Linked DNA regions of Homo sapiens: region 2 is linked to region 1. A link means that fine-mapping ties the variant in region 1 to the expression of a gene that starts in the linked region. Tissue or cell type: tibial nerve. Region 1 holds a variant in brackets; the other region holds the start of a gene. All regions are shown on one strand. Distances are between the middles of the regions.

Region 1 (5,149 bases):
TTGGTAAATGAGTGTCATAGGTGCTTGGAAACAGTAAATGAATTCATTACTAGAGATAGCAAAGCTGTTTGTCAAGTGTAAATTTCTATTTTTTTCCACACCACACTCTTGAATGTGTATAATAGAGGAGGAGAGAATCAGATCTATTATACAAACTTACTTTTTTCTTCTCTTTTGTATCTTTCCTTCCTTCTTTTGTTCCTTCCTTCCTCCCTCCCTCTCTCTTTTCCCTCTTTCTTTCTTTCTCTTTTCTTTCTTTCCTTCTTTCTTCTTCCTTCTTTCTTTCCTTTCTTTCTCTCCCCCTCCTTCTTTCTTTCATTCATTCTTTCTTTCCTCTTTCTCTCTCTCTCCCTCTCCCTCCTTCTCTTTCTTTTTCTCTTTTCTTTCTTTCTCTTTCTCCTTCCTTCCTTTCTCTTTCCTTCCTTCCTTCCTCTTTCTTTCTTTCTTTCCTCCTTCTTTTTCTTGTCTCTCTCTTTCTTCCTTTTTTTCACTTTAAACGGTGCAGTTACTTTGGCATGAAGAAGGAAATTAGCCACTGTATAATGAATGAGGTTGCTTGGAAGAGAACACAGCTTGCTGTCTACTTTGCTTCTCCTTTCCTGATCTGCTAAAGAAAAGGCAAAATGTGTAAGGTGAGGCTCATACACCTGTGTTTGTACTAGTGCTCTGATTTGAATGTTTGTTCCCTCCAAAACTCCCATTGAAATTTAATTGCCATATTAACAGTATTAACAGATGGGACCTTTAAAGGGTGACTAGGCCATGAGGGCTCCGCCCTCATGCATGGAGTAATGTTATAAAAGGGCAAGTTTGGTCCTCATCTTTCTCTTTGCCTTCGCCATGTGATGTCTTCTGCCATGCTATGATGCAAAAAGAAAGCCCTCTCCAGATCCCTGAACATTGGACTTCCCAACCTCTGGAACTGTGAGCCAATAAATATATGTTCGTTACAAATTACCCAGTCTGCGCTATTCTGTTACAACAGCACAATCGGACCGAGGCAAATAGGTAGCCAATAAATAAGATTTTATTTAGAAAAAAATGCAACAGAATATCCATACCTGCACATAGTTAATCCTGCTCAAGGTGTTTGCTCTTATAAACATATGGGTTTGGGACTCAATTTACAAAAACAACTTGTATTTATAAGTTCATGGAAACTCAGACAAGAACAGGCAGCATTAATTAAGTCTGAGCCAGGTGCCAGCTGGGGGATCAAATCCAGAAGAAGCAAACAATCTAGTTAGAAAGATAATGTAAGAAAAATTAAGCAATCATTTAACATATAAACTGGAATTTACATAATTTCATAAACTGTCAGTAGCTTAATGGAGTCAAAGGGAGTTTATGGGAGGAAGAGGTTAATTTAGATTGAGATGGTCAAAGAAGCTTTTTTTGAAAGGTGGTTTGAAGGAAGGTTAGGCCAGAAGAGATGGGAATATGAGGGATGGATGTAGCAGGTAGGTGAAAGGACATGAACAACTGTGTGCATATAAAGTGTTTGGGATCTTATGAGCAGAACAGTTTCACTAAACTGATTTATTTCTTTAAGGCAAATATAATAGAGGAAGAAATGGTGGGAACAACAAAGTTGGGATTAGATTAAGGAAGGTCTTGAACCTTAGGTGAAGAAGGTTGGATTTGATTCTGTAAATAATGGGGAACTACTGGATGTTTTGAGTAGAAGAGTACATTTTTGCAAAAGTATTTTAACAGATTAATTTCAATAGTTTATACATGTGACAAAAGGGTTAGAATTAGGGTGGTGGCAGAAACTAAATAGATGGGATAGAGAATAGATCTGAAGGAATCATGTACTTTAATGACTGATGGAAGATTACAATCAATGGATGGGCAGAAACCTTCAGCCTTGAAGTTAGTAGAAGAAAATAAGCAGTTTTGGAAGGGGGAATAAATCCAGTTTGAGATATCTCAAGTTTTAATAATAGTAGGATGGACAAGTAGAAAAATCCAGTAGACAACTGGAAGTGTGACCTGGCATAGAGGTGACCATAATTGAAGTCATGGGAGTGAAAATTGCCTCTAAGGAAAACCAAGCAGAGACTGAATCTCAGAAAGGACTGGATGGAGAAATAGCAGTAGCAGAAGAAACAGACACATGGAGCATTAAGGCAGCAAAAGCAAGAAGGAGTGTCAGGACCAGGCAGTGGTCCACAGCACCAAAGGCTGCAGAGAAACCATGCAAGACAAGATCAAGGACAGACTCTTCAAGTCTATGGTGCCTTTCCCAGTGGGAACAACACAGCATGAAGAGTGGAAACCAAATGACAAGAGATTAAGGAGCAAGCAAGTCATAACAGAGTTAGAATGTATGGACTTCTCTTTAGGAAAGAGAAAAAAAATAGGATGGAAACTTGAGGTAAAGCCAAAGAATGGAGAATATTTGCACTGACCATGGTATTAGGAAATTGGTAAAAGTTGAATAAAAAGTATTGCTACACAGTAGTTGAGATGAGAGTAATTTGTCAAGTCAGAACAAACACAGGAATAAGACAGCAGACAGTGGGCAAGACTCAGGGATGTCGAGCCAACACAACAGACTGGGGAAAATGAAGTGGGCAACAGAGTAACAGGTGTTGATGAAGGCAGCCTCAAAGAGGCTGTCCAGTGAGGCCACATGAGGTTAATATATCTAGACTGGGGGAATCCAGAAACTGTAGCACACCAGCAAGAGGAGGATAATTAAGAATGGTGATCC[G/A]GCGAGGTCAGGAGATCGAGACCACGGTGAAACCCCGTCTCTACTAAAAATCCAAAAAAAATTAGCCAGGCGCGGTGGCGGGTGCCTGTAGTCCCAGCTACTCAGGAGGCTGAGGCAGGAGAATGGCGTGAACCCGGGAGGCAGAGCTTGCAGTGAGCGGAGATCGCGCCACTGCACTCCAGCCTGGGCGACAGAGCAAGACTCCGTCTTAAAAAAAAAAAAAAAAAAATGGTGATCTGGAACAACTGAGGGACTATTTCAACCCTGAGCATTCCAATTTAAAAAGCACTTGTTGCAAATCAACCAAACGACAATAATTTACTGAGCACTGTATCAGCATTGGGCTTGAGCATGTCAGGGATGGAGAAGCATGAGGCAGTGTTCCAGCCCTCGAGGCACTTTAGTGTAGTTAGAGAGGAGATGAGCTCATCTGAACCCGGTGAGAGCATCACTTCGTGGCGTTGAAAAAGGACTTTAAGTACTGTGAAGAGTTGGCTGGAGCAGAGCCGGTTGAGAGCTGCCAGGGTGGCAAAATGGGAGTCGTCCCCTCTCCTGCCCTCTTTATATCCTCTCCGATCCTCATGGCCAAGCCACACAGCTGCACCTTCAAGAGACTGGAAATGGAGCCAAAAAGAGGGCAACTGTGATTTTCTTATCATGTGAGAGACCTAAAAGCTATACATCTCCCTGCTCAGAGAAAATATGAAGGCAATATCCATTTTCTTTCTATGCCTGGTGTGGGGTACTTTGCTTAGCAGAGCAAGCTGGATCAGGAGGAAGAGACAAGAAGATTTTTAAGAGGTGAGGAGAGGTTTGGAGTCCTTGATGAGAAGCCAATAGCCAGGAGCTGCCCCACAGCTCATTGATGTTGAGTGCATGAGCAACCCTCGGGAGCCTTCCTATTGCCATGGGAGAGTCTGTTTCTGGATTGCTGTCTCACTCCTATTCCCATTCCTGGGGTCTCCGCCTAGTTCAGAGCATGCTGCACAGATCATTCAAGCCTAGGAAGGAATCCTGGCTCTGCCATTTATTGGGAGTGTGACCTTGAGCAAGTTGCTTAAGACAACTGAGTCTCATTCCCGCTTCCAATGGGGTAATCGTTCTTGTAGAAAAAAATGCCTGGTACTAAACAATTACTTGAGGTTATTGTTATTTTCATTTATTCTTACCTTCCCCCTTATCTTCATTTCTTGATGATGGACATGATTATTTTTTCCTTTCTTTTTTTCCAGCCAGCTACAATGCTTGGTAGCAGAGATAGGTTTGGCTCAATTAATCAACTATTTTCCCAGCACAACTAGTGACTGTTATTTGATGAATACTCCCCTGATGTAGCTGAAGGGGAACAACTTACTTAGTTTTGAGATTTTCAAATGGCACTGTACATCAAGATCAATCTCTGTCTCTCTCTTTCTCTGACACACACACACACACACACACACACACACACACACACACACTGCCCCATTCACAGCTGCTGAAGCAGAATCTTGGGGAGATGAGGCCTGGAATCTGTTTCTAAAAGCTTCCACCCCTGGTTAAGAACGCTGTGCCTATTCAAACTCAGGCACCCTATGAGAATATATAACAATATTGTTTGAAAAATAGACGAATTATTTTCTATCAAGCTGCGTAAATTCAGAGCCTGTGGCTGCTTCAGTCATAGCCTTAGGAACAAATTGAAAGGGATTTGTCCAATTGGGGACTTAACATTTCAGAGAAGTCCACCACACACAAAAAATATGTTTGTTCTTTTCTATGCATTAAAACAGTCTAAAGTTCAAGCTGGGGTTTGCTTTGATCTTTTATTTTTGCTTTTTTATGGGTTGCAAATCAACATCACTCCATCATCCATCTCTGCTTTACCTGTCATCATATGACTCATGACTTTCTAAAGAGTCAAGAACCTCCTCTCCCTTCAACCTCTCTGGAGTTTCTGAGGCATCCACGGAGGAGAGGGGGAGGGGTGTATAATAGAGGAGGAGGGAATCAAGTCTAGGGGGCGAAGCTGGGGCAAGAGAGGCAGAGAGCAGTGGTGGAGGAGTGAATGTCCCATAAGTACGGGTCTGGCAGGAGGATAGAAAATCCAGCAAACCTGTGCAGGGGAAATAATTTTTCACACATTTCCAATGTCTTGCTCACTGTCCCACACTGGTAGGGGTGTGTGTGTGTGTGTGTGTGTGTGTGTGTTGGGGGAGTAGCGTGGCTGTATAGTTAGAGTTGAAAATAAAAAGGCTCCCTCTATTGACTGCTGAAAGGCTGAGATAAAGAGAACCACATGGGACTCATTGTGAGAAATGAGACCTCAGAAGCTAGCCTCCTTTTTCCCATTATTGTGCTATTCTCCTCCTTCCCCCTACCCCTCCCACCTCAAATGTCCCCCAGCCCCCACCTCGCCCCACCTTCCCTTTCCCTTGCATAACCCAAAGG
Region 2 (5,149 bases), 70 kb after region 1:
GATTCTTCAAACCCATGCTGCTTAAAACCTCTCTGTAGGAATATCCTTTTTCCTTTAACTGCCTGGGGAGTTCCTATTCATCCTTCAAAAGACTCTATTCAAGCATCATCCAACCTCATATACAGCCAGTAAATATCTACTGAGGCCCTACTATATGCCAGGCTCTGAACTAAGCATTGAGATAGAAAGACCAGTTAGCTATGTCAATGGTAGTTCTCGCTTTCAGTAGGTTCATATGCCATTGGAGAAATAGACATGAAAGTAAACAAAGAAATACAATAAAGCGAGGTAAATTCTGTGAGAGAGGCTGTGGTAGGCTGAATAAAGATCCCTCCACCTCCCACCCAAAGATGTTCACATGCTAATTTCCATAATCTGTAAATATGTTACCTTGCACTGAGAAGGGATTTTGTAGCTATATAACCTTGAGATTTCAGCTGCTTGAGATTTCAGCACCCCAGCATTTTTGTGTGTGTGTGTGTGTGTGTGTGTGCATGAAATAATGAAAATTTTGAACAGGCCCTTGCTTGCTTGTACATGTTAACCACTCGCTTTTTGCCCAGTATTCCTTGTTCCCACAATGTAATTATAAACTGCTGATGTACTGTTTCTTTGTCAAGCAGAAGGAGATAACTTCAGGGTCATAAGAATAGTTTGCAGAAGGAATGAATTCCTGGAAGGACATTGCAACCAGCTGCCATGTACATACGGCTGCACAAGGTGTTACCTGAAATGGAAGAAACACAGACTTTTCCCTTGGATTCCTTGAAACTCCCTCTCCATTACTCTCTAGCTCCATAAAAACTCCCTGCTTCTTTTTTGTTACTGTGGATCTGAGAGATCTTGCTCTCTTGCCCTCTAACTTTGGTCAAATCGAATAAATATTTCTCTGTCTCCAAGCACCAGTATCTCAATATTTGGCATCAGCTGCCCATCGGGTACATGAGCCTGAATTTGGAGTTCTAAAACAGATGTGATTAAGTTAAAGATTCTGAGATGGAGTGACTATCCTGATTATCTTGATGGGCTCAATGTAATCACAAGGGTGTTTTTAAGAGGGAGGCAGGCAGGAGGGTGAGAGAGACAGAGGAAGAGGAGGAGACTGAAAAATGTCATGCTGACAATGAAGGTGGAGGATAGTGAAATGAGCCAAGGAATGAAGGCAGCCTCTAGAAGCTGGAAAAGGAAAGGAAATGAATTCTTCCCTAGAGATTCCGGAAGGAACCAGCCCTGCCAACTTCAGTCCATTGAAATTAATTTTGGACTTCTGACCTCCAGAAATGTAAAATAACTTCTACTTATTTCAAGCCATTAGGTTTGTCGTAATTGGTTACAGCAGCAATAGAAAACTAATACATAGGCCAACATAGGGCACTGTGGTAACACATTAAAGGGGCCTCTGTATCAAGTTATGGAGTGAGGACGGGGTGTTTAGGAAGAATTACCCCAAGTGACGACCCCAGAGCTGAGGAAAGGAGATTGTGTTTCCGAGGATGACCCAGGTAGAGTAGGTAGATGTGTAAAGGCGCACAGAAAGAGCATGGAAAGTGTTTCAATAAAGTAAGACTGCTTGCATGAAATAGTAGTAATAACATCAACAATATTAACTATGGTAAATGTTCATTGTTTGTATGCCAGGAGTGCCTTGGCATTTTACAAGTCTGTGAGATTGATACTATTATTATCATCTTCATTTTACCCACAGGGATACTAAGGTCTGGAGGAGGAGGTAAGTAAATTTCCTGAGATCACCGAGCTAGTAAACAGCAAAGCTAGAACTAGAACCTTGGCAGTCTGTTTCCAAAACTCACTGTTTTTCTAATACGTTACTGTGGGAGTGTTAAGAACTTAAGGGGGCATTAGCATGGCTGAGGATAAATGAATTATTAGAAAGATATTAATGAGGTAAGGATCACTAGAGCTTGGAATATGATCTTGTCTTGGAGACTGACAAAAGTGGGAATGACTGACAGGTGTCTTCCAAGTTTCTTTGATGTGATCTCGGTTTTGCTGTGGTTCAAGACATAAAGGAGCCTTCCTTTACCACTCAAAGCAAATCACTGCTTCTTCGCTACAAATTCCACACCTTGCACAAACCTCTTCATTTCATTTCTTCCTTTTTCCCCTAATGTCTGAGGCAGAGTTGGGGGTAAAAGCACCAACTCAATTCTGGGCCTCATTTTCCATATTTGTAAAATGCCTAGAAGTATTTAACAGTTCCAAACTTGGTTGTGCTTCCGAATCCCCTGCGCTAAGTTTAAACAAAACGCAGATTCCTCATCGCATTCTCAGAGATTCTGTTGGTTAGTATTGGGATGGGGCCTTTTTTCCCCCATGATTCTACGCGGCCACGTGTTGGTAACCAATATACAGATGACTGGGTCCTTCCCAGTCCCACGCGTTTACTCGATGAAGGCAGCCTCCCGCCGGGCTCCTGGCCCCGCCCGAGCCCCACCCCCTGCTCCCTTCCGGCCCGGACTGGGTCCCATCGCCCCACCTCCGGTCGCTGGACGTGCTCTCGCGTAGCTCCGCCTTTCGTAAGTCCCCCCGCCTCGCATGATGGCTGCGGTGCCGCCGGGCCTGGAGCCGTGGAACCGTGTGAGAATCCCTAAGGCGGGGAACCGCAGCGCAGTGACAGTGCAGAACCCCGGCGCGGCCCTTGGTGAGTGAGGCGCCGGGCGAGGATGGGGGAACGTTTCCGGGGGAGGCCGCCAGGCCCAGCCGGCGCATGTGGGCGGGGGTGGTACCGGGACTTCCCGGCCCGGGGGACGCTGGGAAGGGGCGCGGGGCACGTAGGGGTCGAGCGGTCCCAGCACTTTGCTGGTGTAGCTTGTAGGGCCTCTGGCTTCGCATTCCTTCATTGAACCAGCTGTGCTAACCCAGGGCTTGGCTGGAGAGATGAAAGACCAAGGCTCAGCCGTGCGCTGAGGGGGCGGAGAGAGGTGGACTCAGCTGGTGCCGGGGAACAGTGCTGCCTGGGAACCCTTGCTCACCCGGGTCTTCGGAGTCTTGTTTACCCTTCCGTCCATTTCCCCTTTCCTTCTTTTTCCTGTACCCGAGGAGCGGTGGACGTCACCTAAGCACTGGGACTCAAACTGCAATCTTTTCGGACCTCTATCTGCTTATCTGTGAAATGGAGTTAGTCCTCCTACTCCTCACAGGGGCGTTGGGAATATCTAATGATGTAATTTAGGAGACAGTGCGCTGTAAACGACGGTGTTTTGCCACCTAAATGGGTGGTATTTGTTAGGGTGAAGGGCATATAGTAGGTAGGAGCCTGGCGCAGGAGCCAGGTTGTTTGGGTTTGAATACTAGCTCTACCCTTTGCTGGAGCTTGAAGGAGTCATTGAACCTTTCTGTGCCTCACTGATCTCACTTTCAAATGGAGATAAAAGCACCTTCCTCATAGGGCTGTTTGGGGGGATGAAAGAGTTGATAATGTAGAGAAAGCATTTGGAACACTGCCTGGCATGGTAAATGAACACTCAAATGGAAGCTGTTATGAATATTAAATACGTAGCTCCGGGGCCCAAGGGAGAGAATACAGTCATGGGTTCTTTGTTTCCGGTTGGGCTGGTAAAGCCCTTTCCTCATCCCTCTTTTCACTAGAGACAAACTAAAAACCATGGCTTTAAGCTGCAAAAAGCCTAAAACAAAACAGAACAGAACAACAAAATAAGGCGGGTTGGACAAGCTTGACTTAGATCATCACATCCCCTTTCCCATATATCCATCCTACACACTTTACAGATTATCCCATCTATCCTTCCTACACACTTTACAGATTAATCTTCCCTCTTTCTCTATTCAAAAATTCTTTAACAACTCCTATTAGGCCTGGGAAATTCACCAACTCACTACCCATCCCCGAGGCAGCCCATTCTGTCTTCAGGTAGTTGTTGGGACAGTAAGAAAATTCTTGTTAGGTAGCAACCAGCCTTTACTTCCATTTAGAATGCTAGTGCTGCCTTTAGAGCCATAAATAACACATGAACTACATCTTAGGGACTTCTACAGATTTTCAGACTAGGAAGCATCTGCTGATGAGCACCCGGTGTTCATCAAATAATACGATTTCCAGTTACTGTGGTGGTTTTTCTTTTCTGAATATGTTTGTGTCTCTCATAAAGTGATATCCAAACACAGAAGCCTTGATTTTGAAGACTGTGAATTTATTCATTCTGTCTTGCTTTCGGGCATAGCGACATGGGGAGTTAGAGAGTTATTACACATGTTGTGACATGTGCCCTACCTTCAAGGTGGGGGTTAAGTGTACACATGAGGCGTAAGTGTACACCAAATGACTGACAGCAAAGTATTCATATGAAAGATTATTAAACCATGATAAAATGCAATGCAAAGATACAGCTTCTTGTTTTACAGATGTTCTCTTAATGATTTCCTGGACTTTATATCATCTGTTACCATTTTCCAACTTCTCTTATACTTAGAATCCTTACGTTCTTACAGTTGAGACTGATTACATTAGTTTTTGATTCCTTTAAAACAAATAAGGAAAGATGCTTTTTTTAGTGTGTTTTTAATATAATATACTTACTGTAGAAATACATACTAAATCTTATTAGATGTCTCTGCTTCAGACCTTTGCATTGCAGCTGTAATTAAAGAATGCCATCTCGTCATACTGTCGCTGAAGAGCCAAACCTTAGATGCAGAAACAGATGTGTTATGTGCAGTCCTTTACAGCAATCACAACAGAATGGGCCGCCACAAACCCCATTTGGCCCTCAAACAGGTGAGGAAGCCCGGTAGGTGAGACCCAACCTGTTCACTTGAAAATGTAGATCACACTGCCACTTACTATATTGCTATTTATGGAAATCTCGTGGAAATCTCAGTAAATTACTTGTGTTTTATAGGCCTATAGCCCACAGTTACATGTGCACTTTCTTTTTTTTTCCTAAAAGCATTTCAGCATTTCAAAAAGTAATTTTTGTTAGAAAAGAAGTATGTTTAGATTCTTTCCCAGTCTTGTTTCTAATAGGCAAGTAAACATTTTCTTCATTATATACAATCTATAACAACAGTGCCTTTGCCCAGCTCAAAGATAAAGTGATTTGAGCAAGACAAAATGTTGGACATTAAGAAACAGTTCCCTGGGCATAATCAGAATGCTAAAATTATTTTT

Evidence for each region. PIP is the estimated chance that this variant, and not a neighbour inherited with it, causes the effect.
Region 2: it holds the start of NEPRO-AS1, and the variant in region 1 is fine-mapped to the expression of NEPRO-AS1 in tibial nerve (GTEx, PIP above 0.99). The same link has a PIP of 0.9 or more in visceral fat.

Annotation. Positions count from the first base shown.
Region 1 is chr3:113,086,807-113,091,955 of GRCh38, reverse strand. All of the region lies in intron 1 of NEPRO-AS1 (NEPRO antisense RNA 1), which reads right to left. The region is part of intron 1 of LOLI1 (lncRNA oncogene in liver cancer 1); the gene reads left to right. Among named protein-coding and RNA genes, the nearest start is that of LOLI1, 15 kb to the left of the region's middle. The variant G/A (reference allele first, on the strand shown) is at 2,720.
Region 2 is chr3:113,017,055-113,022,203 of GRCh38, reverse strand. NEPRO-AS1 (NEPRO antisense RNA 1) reads right to left here and starts at 2,686. Exons shown (of 3, transcript NR_186663.1): 1 at 2,498-2,686. RMP64 (ribonuclease MRP subunit p64) reads left to right here and starts at 2,533. Exons shown (of 9, transcript NM_015412.4): 1 at 2,533-2,662; 2 at 4,602-4,756. The coding sequence starts at 2,557. RefSeq lists a silencer at 2,745-2,854 and an enhancer at 3,015-3,084.